Regions from separate parts of the Homo sapiens genome. Here region 2 is linked to region 1. The links come from fine-mapping of genetic effects on gene expression. Tissue or cell type: sun-exposed skin. Region 1 holds a variant in brackets; the other region holds the start of a gene. All regions are shown on one strand. Distances are between the middles of the regions.

Region 1 (8,174 bases):
GTCTATGAGCTGGTAATACCTGCACCTGACTTCTAAAGGCCGCAGGGTACCCCAGAGCTGTCCCCAGCTGCTGAGCTGTTCTCTGACCTAAACTGGGTTTGAAAGGCAAAGCCAGAAAAACCAACGGACTTGGCCTTGGGATGTTTGCTCTTTGGCTGCTCTGACCACTACCTAGATAAGTCTCTTCCCCTCCTACCCCAAGGCCAGGTCCCCTTCTCCTAGTCAAGACCCAGAAGAGAAGGGATGCCCCAGAAATTTCCTCACTCCTAAGTCCCAGGCCAGGCTGGCTGCCTCAAAAACTTCTGCCCCAAATTTCATTCCCACGCCAGGATCGACGTTTGGCCCCAGCGTGGAATTCACCTCGGTGCTGAAGCCAGTCTTTGCTCGTGAGAAGGAACCCTTCTCCCTGTCATGCTTGTTTTCGGAAGATGTGTTAGATGCTGAGAGCATCCAGTGGTTCCGAGATGGTAAGGACCCCCAGTCCTGGCCCCCAGCCTCCAGAGCTGGCCCCTCCAAAGCTCAACTCAGAGCCAGAGAGGACCCCTAGCGGACAGAGACTCTCCCCAACCAGTACCAACTGTGCTAAAGTGCTGAAGAGGCAGAGGAGAGCGGGAGTGCAGCCAGGTGTGGTCAGATCATGCCACCCCATAAATGGCCACCAAGCATCTGTGGGGTGCCAGGCCCTGGGTTAGGGCTGGGGTAAATGGTAGGGGCAGATGTGCATGAGCCCAGGGGGCTGTGTCCACCTGGGAGGAGGGAGGAAGCCATCAGCACAATTGTAGCCGCTGGCACTGACCAGGCACCTGCTCAGCCATTTGCATGCATCATTACCTCCCTAAGAGTGAGGGAGGGAGGCCAGGCGTGGTGGCTCACACCTGTAATCCTAGCACTCTGGGAGGCTGAGGTGGGTGGATCACCTGAGGTCAAGAGTTCAGGTCTAGCCAACATGGCAAAACCCCATCTTTACTAAAAATACCAAAAATTAGCCAGGCATGTTGGTGGGTGCCTGTAATCTAGCTACTCGGGAGGCTGAGGCAGGAGAATCGCTTGAACCCAGGAGGCAGAGGTCGCAGTGAGCCGAGATGGCACCATTGCACTCCAGCCTGGGGGACAAGAGCAAGACTCCATCTCAAAAAAAAAAAAAAAAAAAAGTGAGTGAGGGCACTCAAAGCAATGGGAACAGAGCCCCAAGATCGGGAGGCAGGAGGGCACCACAAGTGCTCAGGGCAGGCTGCAACAGTTGCATCGGACTTTGCAGAGTCAGGGTGGTGGTGCAGATACAGTTGCTGACCCGTGGGCTGGGAGGCCTCTGGGGATGTCTCAGGCGAGGCCTTGAGAAGCCTGGTCAGAGCCAAGGCAGGAAGACGTGGCCCAGTGAGGGAGGAGGACGACGGCTGGACCTCCTACCCAATCCATGACTAGGCCTATAGCCTAAGGACCCAGAGTACAGTGCCCCTCTGGCACCCCCAGCTCTGAGCCCAGGGAGGCTGCACCTGCTGGGAGCAGGGAGTATGGGAGCCATCAGGATCCCTGACAGCTGCAATAACAAGGCTGAGACGTCTTCCCAAACGTGTAGATCTTCCAGAATGGAGGTGCTGAATGGAGGGCGGATCCTTCACATGGGGCAAAGAGAAGAGCTGGCCCCACAGTGTGGCCTCAAGGCAGGGCCCGCCCCTGAGCCCTGGACTCCACTTCTGAGTCCCCATCCACCTCCTAAGCTCCCATCCCGAGAGCCCTCACTCCCTTACCTGACCCCTGACCCCACGACACGTCCTCCACCCGCCTCACCGAGGCCCCAGCTCTCTCAGTGAGACCCAGGCCCTTTACTGAGCTCCCACCTCCCCCAAACGGGCCCTCCTTCTTTGAGTCCCCTGACCCCATACAGGGACCCATCTCTCTTGCTCCTACTCCCTCAGAGAACCTACAACTCCTCACCTTGTCACTGGCTATGTCCCTAAACCCTCACTCCCTCATTGAGCCCCAGCCCCGCACTGGCCCTTCCCTACTCCCCAAGCCCTCTGCAAAGGAGAGTTCTCCACTGCCTGCCTTGGCAAAGCCCTGGAGGCCACCACCCCCACCCAAGGCCTGAGCTGAGCCTCACCAGCCTCTCTCTCTGCCCAGCCAGGGTCTCCAGACCCCCCAGTTTCTGTGGTTCCCAGGTGAGACCAGGACCCCCCACAAACTCAATGGCCCCCCACTTCCCCTCCACAGGGAGCCTACTGAGGTCCTCGAGACGTCGGAAGATCCTCTACACAGACCGCCAGGCATCCCTGAAGGTGTCCTGCACCTACAAGGAGGACGAGGGGCTCTACATGGTCCGGGTGCCCTCGCCCTTCGGACCCCGGGAACAGAGCACCTACGTGCTTGTGAGAGGTGAGGGCATGGGTGGGCGCAGGGTAGCAGCAGGAGCCCAGAGACCAGGGCTCTGCCCCTTGTTTGCTGTGGAACCTTAGGCAAGGACCCTGCTCTCTTGGGGCCTCAATTTCTCTACCATAAAATCAGGGCTTTGGGTTGGGGTCTCCAAGACTCCCCGTGGCATCCTATGACCCTCCAAAGGGACATGGCCCGAGAGTTAGCCTGGCTGGAGCCAGGGAGGCTGGGAGCTGAGTGTGGGGCTGGAGTGATTCTGGCCACTGCTTAGGGCCTGGGTTCACATCCTGGCTTTGTCACTTCACCAGCTGGGTGACTTTGGGCAGGTCACTCACTCACCTCCAGGAGACTCAGTTTCCCCATCCAAAGAGGGGAAGGCTGCTCTGGGGCTGGAATTAATTATTCCACTTGTTCAGGTACTTGGTGTAAAATGGGCCCCCAAGAAATGGTACTGTCATCCTTCCCTCAGATACTGCTATGGGGGTAGTGGGACTAATATTCAGGCCCCAGTCCTCAAGATCAAAACTGAGCCCCTGGAGGATGGATGAGAAGAGGATGCTGGGCGGGAGTGGGAAGGGCCTGTCACCAAATGGCCACTGACTAGAAGGGCCTCCCTCTCACCCCCGGGTTTCAGATGCCGAGGCCGAGAACCCCGGGGCCCCAGGCTCCCCACTGAACGTCCGATGCCTGGATGTGAACAGAGACTGCCTCATCCTGACTTGGGCCCCGCCCAGTGACACCCGGGGCAACCCCATCACTGCCTACACCATTGAGCGGTGAGTCGACCTCGTGAGTGGCAGAGGCCCTAGGGGTAGAATTCTGTCTGGTGGTGGGAGCCACAGCAAAGAGGAGGCCCCATGTCTGACCTCAGAGAACCCTCACACCCCCGCTCCTCAGAAAAGGACAGGAGACAGGCTGTGCTGTGTCATTTAGGGGCAATGGAGGGGCATCCACACCTCCAAGTCTTTGTCATGCTGATAACTGGAATTCTATGCTGGAGTCGGCCACTGCCCTGTGGACCCTCTAGAGCTGACCCAGAGGGGCAAAACGGGGAGTGCTTGAACCCTGAGCACAGTGAATTCGTGGGCTAGTTTCCTTCCTAATGACAGAGAGAGATGGAATAGCACTGACCCCAAGGGAGGAGGCAAACAGGTAGAGAGGCCAGAACCTCCGGCCTTTTTCCAGTGTGGCCGGCTCTGAAGGCCCAGCTTGAGAAAATAGCTAATGCTGCCACGGACAGGCTCATGACCGTGCTAAGGGCATGCCTCATCTCTTTCCATCCTTCCAATGACCCGTCTCTAAAGGGGAGGGGGACTATCTAATGCCCTCTTCTATAGATGGGGAAACCAAAGTATGTGGGGAGATGACTTTGCTCAAAGACACATTTGTCATTAGTGGTGGAGACAAGACTTGGACCCACATGTGACGACTACCTCAACCAGCTGGTAACAATAAGGGTAACGTGCACTGTCGTACTGCCTGGAACAATGGTACCAAGAGGGTACAGAGAGCCCAGGCTTGGAGGGTCAACCTGGAATGCATGCCAACTTAGGGAGGGGACAAGCTCAGGTAAATCCTAACTGTGTGACCTTGGGCAGGTCTTGTCACTCTCTGAGCCACAGATCCTCCATGTGTGCAGTGAAGGTGACCACACGTGCCCCCTAGGACTGCCAGGGAGATAAAACGAGGGCTGGGTGTGGAGGGCACAGCACAGTCACAGGCTCACGATGATGCCCCATGAAAGGCACTGCTGCTGGTCAGTGTCAGGGATGGTGAAAAGGTCTCCCGGGGGCCCGAGGTTGGAGCCAGGCTCTTCCATTGGAGAGAAGAACTTTAATTGGCAGAGATGAGCTGGGCAGGCTCCCCCAGTCAGAGAAAGGCCCTTGTAGAGGCTCACATTGGGAAGGTGTGCATTGTGGGCAGGGGCTGAAAGGGGGGGCCTGTCTCCAACAGGTGCCAGGGCGAGTCTGGGGAATGGATCGCCTGCCATGAGGCCCCCGGAGGGACTTGTCGGTGCCCAATCCAAGGCCTCGTCGAAGGTCAGAGCTATCGGTTCCGGGTGAGAGCCATCAGCAGGGTAGGCAGCAGCGTCCCCTCCAAGGCCTCAGAGTTGGTTGTCATGGGTGACCATGATGCAGCCCGGAGGAAGACAGGTGGGTACAGAGGTCCTAAGCGACTTTCTAGAACATCAGTCAGGGAACCCTCAGGACTGTCTCACACAGGAGACAATCCAGCCCTCAGGAGCCCCGAGTCTGGTGGAGGAAGCACAGCCCAGCCCTCAGTAAACACTAGTCTGATGAAGGAGACAAAGGCCAGCCCTCGAGAACTTCCAGTCTGATGGAGGAGACACAATCCGGTCCTTAGGAACCCCTAGCCTGAGAAGGAAGATACAGCTAGTCTAATGGGAGAAACCAAACCTGTCCATGGGAGAGACCAGTCTGAGGGAGCACCCTACCCCAGCACCTGTCAGATGTCCTTAAGCTCGAGTGCGGGGACACGGCCTCCTCTCAGCCCTCGGGAGCCACGCTGACTTGGGTGTGCTAGAAGCTCCACCGTGGCAGGGTGCCCAGCGCCAGGCACCTCCCTCCTCCTCTCTGTCTCCACTTGTCCCAAGAGGAAGAGCATGTGCCAG[G/A]GCCTGAGAGCAGCAGGGCTCCACTTGGGACTCCTGAGAAAGCTGAGGCCAGAGGGAGGGCACCTGTCTGAGGTTGCACAGCGAGGGCTGCAAGGCCAGGACTGGGACGGGGCAGGACGCAGACCCTGGTGTGGGGTAGCTCCTGGCCTAACTCCTCCTGTGCCACCCCCCACCCTCCCATGCTCCCTTCTCATCCTAGAGATCCCCTTTGATCTGGGAAACAAGATCACCATCAGCACAGACGCTTTTGAAGGTACGCGGGATCCTCCCACACACTGGGCCTCCTGTATAGTTCTCAAAACTCTGGGACATGAGCTGGCAAAGAGGCAGAAGCTGTCCCAGTGCAGGGTGTGGGGGATGAGGGCAGGTGGGGCCTAGTTGGAGGCAGTCAGAGTGCTGGGGTCACTGTGGCCCATCTGGCTGTGGCCCTCCTGGAGGAGGGAACACATTGGGAAAAGTCCTGGCCAGAGCAGTGGGAGACCTGGGTTCTAGCCCCGGCTCTGCCCAGCATTGCTGAGTGACCTGGAGCCAACTACTGCCCCTCTCTGGGGGATGGGTAGGGGTGTAGTTCCCTCTTCCATGGAATGAGGCACTGAGATTAGGGGGTCTCTGAGGGTCCAACCATCTCGGTCCCGGGTGACTCTGATTTCAGATACTGTGACCATCCCCTCACCGCCAACCAATGTCCATGCCAGCGAGATCCGAGAGGCCTATGTGGTTCTGGCCTGGGAGGAGCCCAGCCCCCGGGACAGAGCACCACTGACGTACTCCCTGGAGAAGGTAGGGAACCCCGAGGCCCCAGCCCCAGGCCAGCCTGAGAAACAGATGTGCTGTGGGACCCTGGGCAGTGTCCCCTGGGGAGGCCGTCAGAGAATGAAAGAGAATCCCCTGGCCAGAAGGGCCCAGGCATGGCCCTACACAGAGGCAAGGGGATGGATTGAATAGCCTTTTGCAGCTACCTCTAGCCCTGGAAGCCAGTCACTGCTGGTCGTTCCTGAGGCTGTTCGTGGAAATACACAAAATACAAGACACAGACAACAATGACAATACGATCCACCACTTCCTGGGTACCTCCCTGCCCCCAAGCCAGATGGCATCAGACCACACATTGGGGCCAAGCACTTCTTGGTGGGACTATGTTGGGAGGGAAACAAGGCTGGTACCCTCCAGCCAGGGACAGGCACCAGCAGCACTTGCAGAGCCTATGGTGTGATTAGCACTAGGAGGTGGCTCTCACTGGGGAGTGGGGGCAGGGGAGACCCCGGCGGGGATGAGGCAGGTCTTGTGGAGTGAACTTCACAGTGGAGGGGGGGCAGTATGGCAGAGTAGAAGACAGCATGGTGTCAAAATCTATTCAAATCCTTCCTTGTGCTGTGTGATCCTGAGTGAGTGTCCTAAACTCTCTGAGCCTCAGTTTCCTCCAGCATAGAATAGAGAACCTGCCCTGTGAAGATGAAATAAAACACAGCCCACAGCCAAAGCCAGCAACCCCTGGGATCTGTCAGTGCTTCCCAAGGAGGTGTTCTTGACTATCTCCCTGAAGTCAGAGACTAAGTTTATCTTCTCATTACTTTCTGTGCCCAGCACAATGCCTGGCACAAACTAGGTGGACAGAAAATGTTTAGGGAATAAATGAATTTAAAATTTCCAGGGAGGAATCTCTGGCTCTGATTATCCAAACAGGCCTCTCTTTTCACACTCATGGGTAATCCTTTTTCTCCGACATAGGAAAGCTGTAGATAATTGAGGATTTGTTTCACAAGGTGGTAGTGTATCATGGTGAAGATGTTGGCGTCAGACTGCTTGGGTTCAAATTCTATCTCTGCTACTTACCAGCTGCGTGACCTTGGGCAAGTTACTTAGTTTCTCTGTGCCTCTGTTTCTTCTTCCATAAAATGATAATAATCATACACAGCTTGTAGGGTTAATGTGAGGATCAAATTAATTAGCGCACATAAAGACTTAGAATGGAGCCTGGCACACAGTAGGAGCTCAGCAGTGTTCATGGTTTCTTATGGCAATTTCTTGTCCTACCTGGTCTAGGCCACTGACAGCCAGATGGGCTTGTGGGGGGAAAACCACAGAGCGTGGAATCAGTGGGTCCCCTTGTGCTTCTAGGTCTTAACTCTCTTGCCCAGACTCAGCAGAAAGGGTCTCTGGGTACCTCACTCATCTGTCTCACCCTGGGCTCTCCACCCTCCATCTGCCCAGAGACTCGGGGTTTCTGGCTGCCTTCTGGGTCCCTGATGCTGTGGAGAGTAAACAGGTTCGCAGCCAACCACACCTGAGTGAAGTTTAATACTATATCCACCAGTTATTAGATGCAGGACTTTTGGCCAAGTTACCGAAACTCTCTGAACCTGACTTTCCTCATCGGCAGAGAAATTAACACCTTCCTGCAGGGTTATTGTGAGAATTCATTCATTTGTTCATTCATTTGTCCCAGAAACATAGATGGAGCACCTGCTATGTGCCAGTCCTGTTCTTGGCCCTAGGGACACGGCAGTCAGGGGAGGGGGTGCCAATGATAAATGGAGTAAATCAGTAGAATATTAAGCACAGTAGTGAGTGGTAGGCGCTAAGGAGAAAGACATTGAGCAGGGAGGGGAACTTGAAGTGTGGGGAGAGGAGCTGCTGACATTTTTAGATGGAGTGGCTGGGATGGCCTCCCCACTGCCCAGGAAGGTGGATTTTTATTAAAGGCCTACAGGAAGCCAAGAGATTTCTCGGAGAAGAACATTCCAGGCTGAGGGACCAGCAAGTGCAAAGGCCCAGAGGTGGGACTTGGACCCTCAGGAAACAGCAGAGAGGCACAGAGACTAAGGGCAGAGGGAACGGTGGCCAGACAGGCCGAGGGGTCAGGCGATGGGGAAGCTTTTGCTCTGAGGGAGATGCGGGACGTGGGAGGGTTCTGGGCAGACAGGGACCTGGTCTGACACGTGCTATAAAAGGATCCCCCTGATGGCCATTTGAGACAAGACGGAAGGGGGTTATAGGTAGAAATGGAGGGGAGACCAGTCAAGAGGCCATTGAGATCGTTCAGGTGCGGGGTGCTGGCAGCCTGCATCAAGGTTATGGTGGGGAGCATGAGGACAATAAGGCATGGCTGGTTTCTGGGTAAATTTTGAAGGGTGAGCCAACTGGGTTCATTCATGGAGCACATTTAGGGCAT
Region 2 (8,174 bases), 21 kb before region 1:
AGGTTCAGAGCAGTCAGTTTGTTCTTAATGGTCATAAGTCCAGGGAAGGGAATAAAAGAGAAAAGAAGGCAAGGGGAGAAAGAAGAAAGATAAGCCAGGTACTATAGTAGGTATTTTACACATTTAACCTTATCTGAGTCTCCCAGCCATTCTGCAAGATAGGCAATTGCTATAGTCTGAATGTTGGAGTCCCCCCAAAATTCATATGTTGAAACTTCATGTAATAGTAGCAAGAGGTGAGCCCTTTGGAAGGCCATGAAGGCTATGCCCTCAATAATGGGATCAAGAGGCCAGCATGGTGGTGATTCAAGCCAGTAATCCCAGCACTTTGGGAGGCCAAGGTGGGAAGATCCCTTGAGGCCAGGAGTTTGAGACCAGCCCGGGCATCACAGTGAGACCCTGTCTCTACAAAAAACGCAAAAATTAGCCTGGTGTGGTGGTGCGTGCCTATAGTCCCAGCTACTCAGGAGGCTGAGGTAGGAGGATCACTTAAGCCCAAGAGGTTGAGGCTGCAGTGAGCCATGACTGCACCACTGCACTCCAGTCTGGGCAACAGAGCAAGATCCTGTCTCGGGGAAAAAAATAAAAATGGAATGGGATTAATGCCCTTATAAAAGAGGTTGAAGAGAGTGCCCTAGCCCCTTCCACCACATGAGGACTCCACAAGAGGCACCATCTATGATGCAGAGAGCAGGTCCTCACCAGACACTGAATCTGCTAGCACGTTGATCTTGAACTTCTTGGTCTCCAGAACCGTAAGAAATAAACTTTTGTTATTTATAAATGACCCTGTCTAATGTATTTTGTTGTAGCAGCTCAAACGAACTAAGACAGTAACCATTCACTGATTCATTTTTCTTTTTTTTTTTTTTTTTTGAGACGGAGTCTCTCTCTGGTCTCCCAGACTGGAGTGCAGTGGCGCCATCTCAGCTCACTGCAAGCTCTGCCTCCCGGGTTCACCCCATTCTCCTAACTCAGCCTCCTGAGTAGCTGGGACTACAGGAGCCCACCACCACGACCTGCTAATTTTTTGTATTTTTAGTAGAGACAGGGTTTCACCTTGTTAGCCAGGATGGTCTCGATTTCCTGACCTCATGATCCACCTGCCTCGGCCTCCCAAAGTGCTCGGATTACAGGCGTGAGCCACTGCGCCCAGCCCACTGATTCATTTGTAAATAAATGTGAATTGAGGGCCAGGTGTATGCCAAGCACTGTTCTCGGGGGTAGGGATATGGTCAGGCAGGCAAGTTCTCTGCTATCTTGGAATGTGTCCTCCACCTACAGAGAAAGAAACTGAGGCCCAGAAAGGAGGCCAAGGTCCCCCTGTTAGTGACTGAGGCACCAGAGGTTGGGATTTAAACCAAGGCTTGTATAACATCAAGTCATCTAATCTCTCTGCTCAGCCGCATGACCTTAGGCTTGGCCATGTTTACAGAGGTTCCAGTGATGACTGAGTGCTTCACTGGGGTGAGGTCAACAAAGGGATACATGGGAATCCCACCCCCAGAAGCATGGGGTAAGAGAAAGCCATCAGCATTCCTAGAGCTTTCATTTAGCAAACGTCTGTCCGGGGCCAGACGCCGTGCTGGAGGTTTCACGGTTCTTGGTTGAACATTTTCTTTTCTTTTCTTTTCTATTCTTTTTTTTTTTCTTTTCTTTTTGAGACAAAGTTTCACTCCTGTCACCCAGGCTGGAGTGCAATGGCGCCATCTCAGCTCACTGCAACGTCCACCTCCTGGGTTCAAGCAATTCTCCTGCCTCAGCCTCCCAAGCAGCTGGGATTACAGGCGCGCCCCCACCACACCCAGCTAATTTTTGTATTTTTAGTAGAGACGGGGTTTCACCATGTTGGCCAGGCTGGTCACGAACTCCTGACCTCAGGTGATCCACCCGCCTCGGCCTCCCAAAGTGATGGGATTACAGGTGTGAGCCACCATGCCCAGCCTGATTGAACATTTTCAATGAGACAGCTAAGTGGAAATTGTTGTCTTCAACTGTACAGATAATCAAACCACACTGGCTGAGTGCCTTCCCCAAGGTCATCCAGCTAATAAGTGGTGGGACTGAATTGAAAGCCTAAGCCGGTTTGACTCCAGGATGCACCCTGTCTCTCCAGTGCACCTTCATTCATCTCCCCAGATTGCCTTGGGAGGACGGGGCTAGAGGACCTGTTTAAATGACTGTCTCCTGCTCAGTTGGAAGCTCAAAGCCCTCTTTGCTGTTCGTACGGATTCACTCACACTCATCCCTCACAGCAAATGTATGAAGATGAGTCTTGGAAAGCCCTTGTTCGATTGGGTCAATAGAAGATGGGAGAGAAATGTTCTCTCCCAAAAGATGCTGTAAGAGAGAGCCACAGAAGAGCTTAGAAAGGGGTTTTCAAATAGGGCAGGGGATTCAGATTTTGCCTGCAAAGTTCACTTGTGCTCTCTCTCTCCTTCTCTCGAGTGAGGAGTCCCTGAGGCACCAGCAAGAGTGACAGGTGTAGTGTGGGTGGCCACCTGAGGTCGCAGGAAGGGGTGAGGGAGGGAAGCTGTGCTCTCTGGCTAGGGGCCGGTACAGCCTTCCCCTCACCGGCTCATCCTCTGAGACTCGACCCAGGTGCACCTTCCTGATCACCTCCTGTCGTAAGTGCCTGACTTCCCCTGTAGGTTAGGGTCTGGCATAGGGTAGGTGCCAATGAATGTGAGGGGGAAAGAATTGAGACTGAGGGAATGGCAGGAGAGGGCAAAGGGTGGGAAGAGGTGTGGTGCCGAACACCTATTAACCTCAGTAGGGAAGGCACCAGGTTTGAGAGGCCAAAGAAAAGATCCATAGCCAGCAAACGGAACATGGGGGTTTCAGGAGGCGGAGGTTGCAGTGAGCTGAGATCATGCCACTGCACTCCAGCCTGGACAACAAAGTGAGACTCTGACTCAAGAAGGAAAGAAAGAAGGAAAGAAGGAAAGAAAGAAAGAAAGAAAGAGAGAGAGAAGGAAGGAAGGAAGGAAGGAGGGGGGGAGGGAAAGAAGGAAAGAAGGAAGGAAGGAAGGAAAGAGAAAGAAGAAAGAAAGAAAGAAAGAAAGAAAGAAAGAAAGAAAGAAAGAAAGAAAGAAAGAAAGAAAGAAAGAAAGAAAGAAAAAGAAAGGGAGAGAAGGAAGGGAAGGAAGGAAAGGAAGGAACGTGGGGGTTTGTTAGGGGCTTGCCTACAGGAGAGAGAGTCCACTGGTGATGAACTGGACAGGAGAACCGCCTTACATACAGAAATGGTCCAGGGGCGGCGGGCTGGACAACATACCAGTGGCGGCCGACTGGGCAGGAAAACCTCAGCCCCTTGCAAACAGCATGCAGTTTATAGAGCATTTTCACTTTACACCATCCCCTAATGACCTCCACCTGGCAATCTTCATTTAACCCAAAACTCAGGGCCTCAATCCCCTGTATGGCCAGCGTTCCACCAGAAGGGACGGGACGGGGGCTCAGATATTCATCGTAGGTAAGAAACGGGTTGGCTACTCCCCAGATTCCTTAGCTCGGAACACATATTCAGGTCTTCCACACAGGGTCATTCTTGGAGCGTGCTTCAGTTATCCCTGTCAGGTGCGTTTACCCTATAAGAAGGCCCTTCAGGGGACACTCTGGCAGCCTGAGCAGTTTGCACAGTGAAGCAGTAGGTGGCTCCCCAGCTCCTCCTGCCTGCACCACACCACACACACATGACTGTGGTCAGGGCGGGGGCCGTGTAGTAACTACCGGAGTGGTGGAGGGACCAGGAGCCACACATTGCTGTTTTAGCCAGTGACAACTTCTGAGCACGAAACACTCACTTTTAGGTCATATTCCTTCCACCGTCTTCATGAAGTCCAGGTGCCCAGTCTCACTGTCTCCGTTTTTCAGAAGGCAGTCAGTTCAGGGAAGCTGAGCGCCTTCCCCAGGGCACCCAGTCAGCCGGGGCAGAATTCAGATCAGAACTCCCGACAGCTGAGAACGCCGCACGGGATCTGCCCTCCATACGACCATGCCTGAGCCGTTCCCTCCTTTCCATTTTAACAGGGGCTTGGGTTGGGCAGAAAGGACCCAGCTGAGAGGAGGAGCAGTGTGGGGGGACGCGGCGGACAGCTCCACCTGTCGCTGCTGCCCAGCAGGCTGGAGACACGGAATGGCCCCTCCCCTTGGCCCCCTGTCCCCGATGCCATAGTTCTCATCCATTGTCATTGTACTGTCTCAGTGCTGCTATATTTAAGACGGTGCAGTCTCCGGGATCGCATTCTTCTCCCGGTGCCCGCTGAGCCGAGGGCAAGAAGAGAACAAGGACCCTCTCGGCCTCAGGAATCTTCTCCCCAGAGACTCCTAAGTGGGCACACTGCTTCTGTGAGTCACCCCCAGAAATCAGGGTGGGGGAGGGATGCCTCCTAAGAGTCAGCCACTGGGGAGTGATATCTGTGGGTGCATGTGTGTGTGTGTGTGCACGTGTGTGTGTTTGTGTGTATGTGTGTTGTGTGTTGTGAAAGGAGCCTGGGAAATTTGTGCTGAGGCAGCACCCAAGTGAAAATGGGAGGGGATTCCAGAAACCCCTGCCCCATCCCACTGTTCTGTGTGGCCCTGGGTCTTCTGAGAGCTGAGCTGTCTGTGATGTGAAAGTTGCAAAAAAAAAAAAAAGAGTGGGGGCTGCCCTGGGAACTGGAGTCTTTCCTGTGATGGAGCAGCGATAAGCGGGAGCCAGGCTAAGCTGGCAAGTTCCACGAACTTAGAGCGGAGCTGGCTGAGCCCGGCTTGGCCAACCCCACAGGCAGGGAAAGAGAGCGAGCCCTCGGATCCCAAATCTTAGAGCTGGAAGGGATTTCATCCAGTGCCTGACAGGAAACCGAGGCCCAGACGGGAAAGGAGTTGCCTCAGCTCATGACTGGCAAGGGCAGGATTCGGCCTCGCGGAAGCTGGTGGAGCCACTGGCTAAGAACACGTCCCAGCCTGTGCCACCCGCCGCCCGCAGGATGTGTCTCTGCTCCCAGCCACCATCCGCCCCCATCGCAGCTCCTGGAGGGGTCTTGGCTCAACTGCTGTGCATTCCTCTTTCCCTCCTGAAGAAGGGGAGAGGCCTCCTCGGCAGATGGAGGCTTGGGAGGAAAGCAGAGGGGAATAGGGAAGGCCACGCAGTGGGACCTCTGGCCCAGATTTTTGCACCCCAAGAGAGGGAAGCGGGGGCAGTTTCCCCTCCACGCAGGCACACACAGTGTTCCGGGAAGAGGCACCCTGGTCCTTTGGGAAAGGGCAGTGAGGCCGCAAACTTGTCCCTGCTTAATACCACGCATCAGTCAGTGCTTTAAAAAGAATTGGTAGCTCATCCGCTAAAGCCAGGGGTCTGGTTGCTGGAGGCCCCGAGGTCAGGGACGAGCGCCAGGCCCCTGCCTGCTGTGCTAATCGGGAACAGAGCATCCAGGGGAAGGGAGCCAGTGGCTGGTGCCAGGGAATGTTAACTCTCAGCCACTGGAGCCAGGGCCATCGTGTCCCAGGAAAGCTGGGGCAGAGTGGGGGGTCCTTGCTCCACCTAGGGTGGTACCCAGCAGCTCTCCTCCTGGGCCATGAGGAAGAAAGAGCAGAATGAGCAGGGCTAGCCACTTCTTTGGGTGCAAAGAGAACTTCTTCCATCGGGAGGGAGTGATACGAAGCCAAAGAGGGTGACTGTCCCATTATGTCATTTGAGATGATTAGCAGGAGCCCAGGGAGCTTTAGGGGGCAGCCCTTGGTCCCAGCTAACCCTGCAGCCATCCATTCTCTTTTTCCTGATGCCCACAACTGCAGACACCCAAAAGGAGCAAACTTCTAGGAAGTAGAAGGGGTAAAAGCCCACTAAGACTGACCCTCCACAGCCCGAGCCCCAGACACCTCCACCACATGCCCCTTCCAGGCCAACGGCTCTCCAATAAAGCCAGTGGGCTCACCTTCCATGCCATGGACTTAGAGAAATGGTCACCTAGGTGCTGTGTTCACATCCAGGCAGAAGACAGCCTACACATGCACGCACACACACACATACACACACATGCACGCCCACACACACACACGCTGCCACCTCCAGCAGGACCCTCTAGAGAGGCAGGGGCCAGACAGAGCTGACCCCACAGAAGCTGACAGGAGCAGGCCAAGGCAGGCGGTCATCCCTCTTCTGTTTCCATCCCCACGCCTGGGCAGGAACCCTCCCATGCCAGAAGCCTGCAGACCAGGATTCCCACCTGGAGGAGGTGTGAAAGCCATTCCAGGGATTTTAGCTTTAGCATCAGGGGGGCCCTCAGAGACCCAGCAGTGACTGAAGCCCGGATATGAGAAAACTCAGTGCAAAAACCCACAGCCAGCGGGCACACGGGCCTCCCACACCCCTCGTTTGCCTCTCCATATCCATGGATCCGCTTCCTGAGCCTCCCCTGGGTCAATCTGATCCGGCCCCACTGGGCGCCATCACGGGCCTAGACTTGAGCCTTGGGAATGCAAAGGAGATGTGTACATTGCAATCCCCTTATAAGGAGAAAGGCCCTGTGGCCCACCGTGTCCCCAGCCTCTGCCACGGCCTGGCCTTGAATGGACATATGACATAGAGATCAGAAGGGCTAGGGGTTGGGCTAGGGATTGGCTGCCAGTCATGGCCCCACCATCATGCTGGGTGACCTTGAGCAAGTACTGCCCCTGTTCATCAGTAAAATGGGATAATAATGGTGCTGTCCTCATTTGGGTTATTGCAGGGACTGGGGATAATGCATTTGAAAACTAACATGGGCATGGAACATAGTAAGTTCTCACTATTGTTACTTTTAATTCACTTACAGTCTTGTTGAACAGTCAAGATGCACAGATACAAAATAATTACATAGAGAAAGCATTGTCTGAATCAATGCTAAATTGTGGAGTGCTAGAAAATAAGTACAAAAGAAATGAGAAGAGGGAAAATTCTAGGTGGCCTGTAGTCTTTCTGCAAGGCTTCTTAGAAAAATAATGCTAATGCCTAATACTTATGTTGTACTTACTAAGCCCCAAGCACTCATCTAACCTTCACAACTACCCTGGGAGGTTAGTAGACCCATTTTACAGATGAGGAAACAAAGTCATGAGTCTTTCCCAAGGTTACACACTTGAAAGCTGGGATAAGGAGCTGGGATCACACCCTGTGGGCTGGACTCAGAGTCTCTCTGCTAATTAGCATGCCCTCAGTTGGGGTTTGAAGCATGACTAGAGCCAAGCGGGCCAGGAGGAGGGGAAGGGTGTGCCGGGAGAGGAAACCAGCGTGGGCAAAGGCCCAGAGGTAGGACTGAACATGGCCGGTGCAGGAAGAATGGGGACGCCTGCCCGTCCTGAGTCATAGACACAGCCGTGGACATCACAGTTTCAATTACTCATTGTCTGGGGAGCTGAGGCCCATAGAAGCGAAAACCTTGCCACAGATCATACAGTGAGACAAGGGCTGGGCTGCAGCTGGAAGCAGCTAGAAGCCAGGGCCCTGCTCCCTAACGTGGGGGCTCTGCTCACTCAGCTGGGGAGCACATGGGGTGGAGGAGAAGCCTGGCTCAGAGCCCAAGGCCTGCCTCTGTCACCTTGGGCAGGTCCCTCTCCCTCTCAGACCTCAGTTTCCCTGTCTGCCGACTGCAGAGAGGACACCCCCACCCCCCATCCTGCCAGCCTCCTAGAGATGTTGGGAAGACTGCATGGGAGGGGATAGGCGGGCACCTGGTGGAATGACCGTGGACCTTGGCCTTCACAGGTTGTTGCTCTCGTAACCATGACTCTGCCGCACAGCTTGGGAGGTGCGGGGGACCCCCGGCCCCCCCAGGCCATGGAGGTTCACAGGCTGGAGCACCGGCAGGAGGAGGAGCAGAAGGAGGAGCGGCAGCACAGCCTGCGCATGGGCTCCTCTGTGCGGAGGCGGACCTTCCGCAGCAGGTGGGAGCCACAGGGTCCCCGCCCAGCCACTGCCCTGTTCCCAGGGCCCCCAGTCTGAGGAGGGAGGCCCAGCCTAGCCCTCTGGAGGCTCCAACCTGATGGGGGGAGGGACATCCCTGCTTTCTGAACCCCCTGTCTGAGGGGGGAGACACAATTGGCTCTCTGGAGACCCCCATGTGATGGAAGAGGCACAGCCCTGTCCTCTGGAAACCCTGTTTGAGGAGGGAAGCACATTCAGGGTCGGGGGGATGCAGCCTTGCTTTCTGAGA

What was found. PIP is the estimated chance that this variant, and not a neighbour inherited with it, causes the effect.
Region 2: it holds the start of MYOM3, and the variant in region 1 is fine-mapped to the expression of MYOM3 in sun-exposed skin (GTEx, PIP above 0.99).

What each region holds. Positions count from the first base shown.
Region 1 is chr1:24,087,146-24,095,319 of GRCh38, reverse strand. It overlaps MYOM3 (myomesin 3), which reads left to right. Exons shown (of 37, transcript NM_152372.4): 9 at 330-467; 10 at 2,212-2,373; 11 at 3,005-3,146; 12 at 4,324-4,523; 13 at 5,202-5,255; 14 at 5,655-5,782. Among named protein-coding and RNA genes, the nearest start is that of MYOM3, 21 kb to the left of the region's middle. RefSeq lists an enhancer at 1,678-2,341. The variant G/A (reference allele first, on the strand shown) is at 5,003.
Region 2 is chr1:24,108,207-24,116,380 of GRCh38, reverse strand. MYOM3 (myomesin 3) reads left to right here and starts at 4,246. Exons shown (of 37, transcript NM_152372.4): 1 at 4,246-4,350; 2 at 7,727-7,905. The coding sequence starts at 7,745. RefSeq lists an enhancer at 3,536-4,044.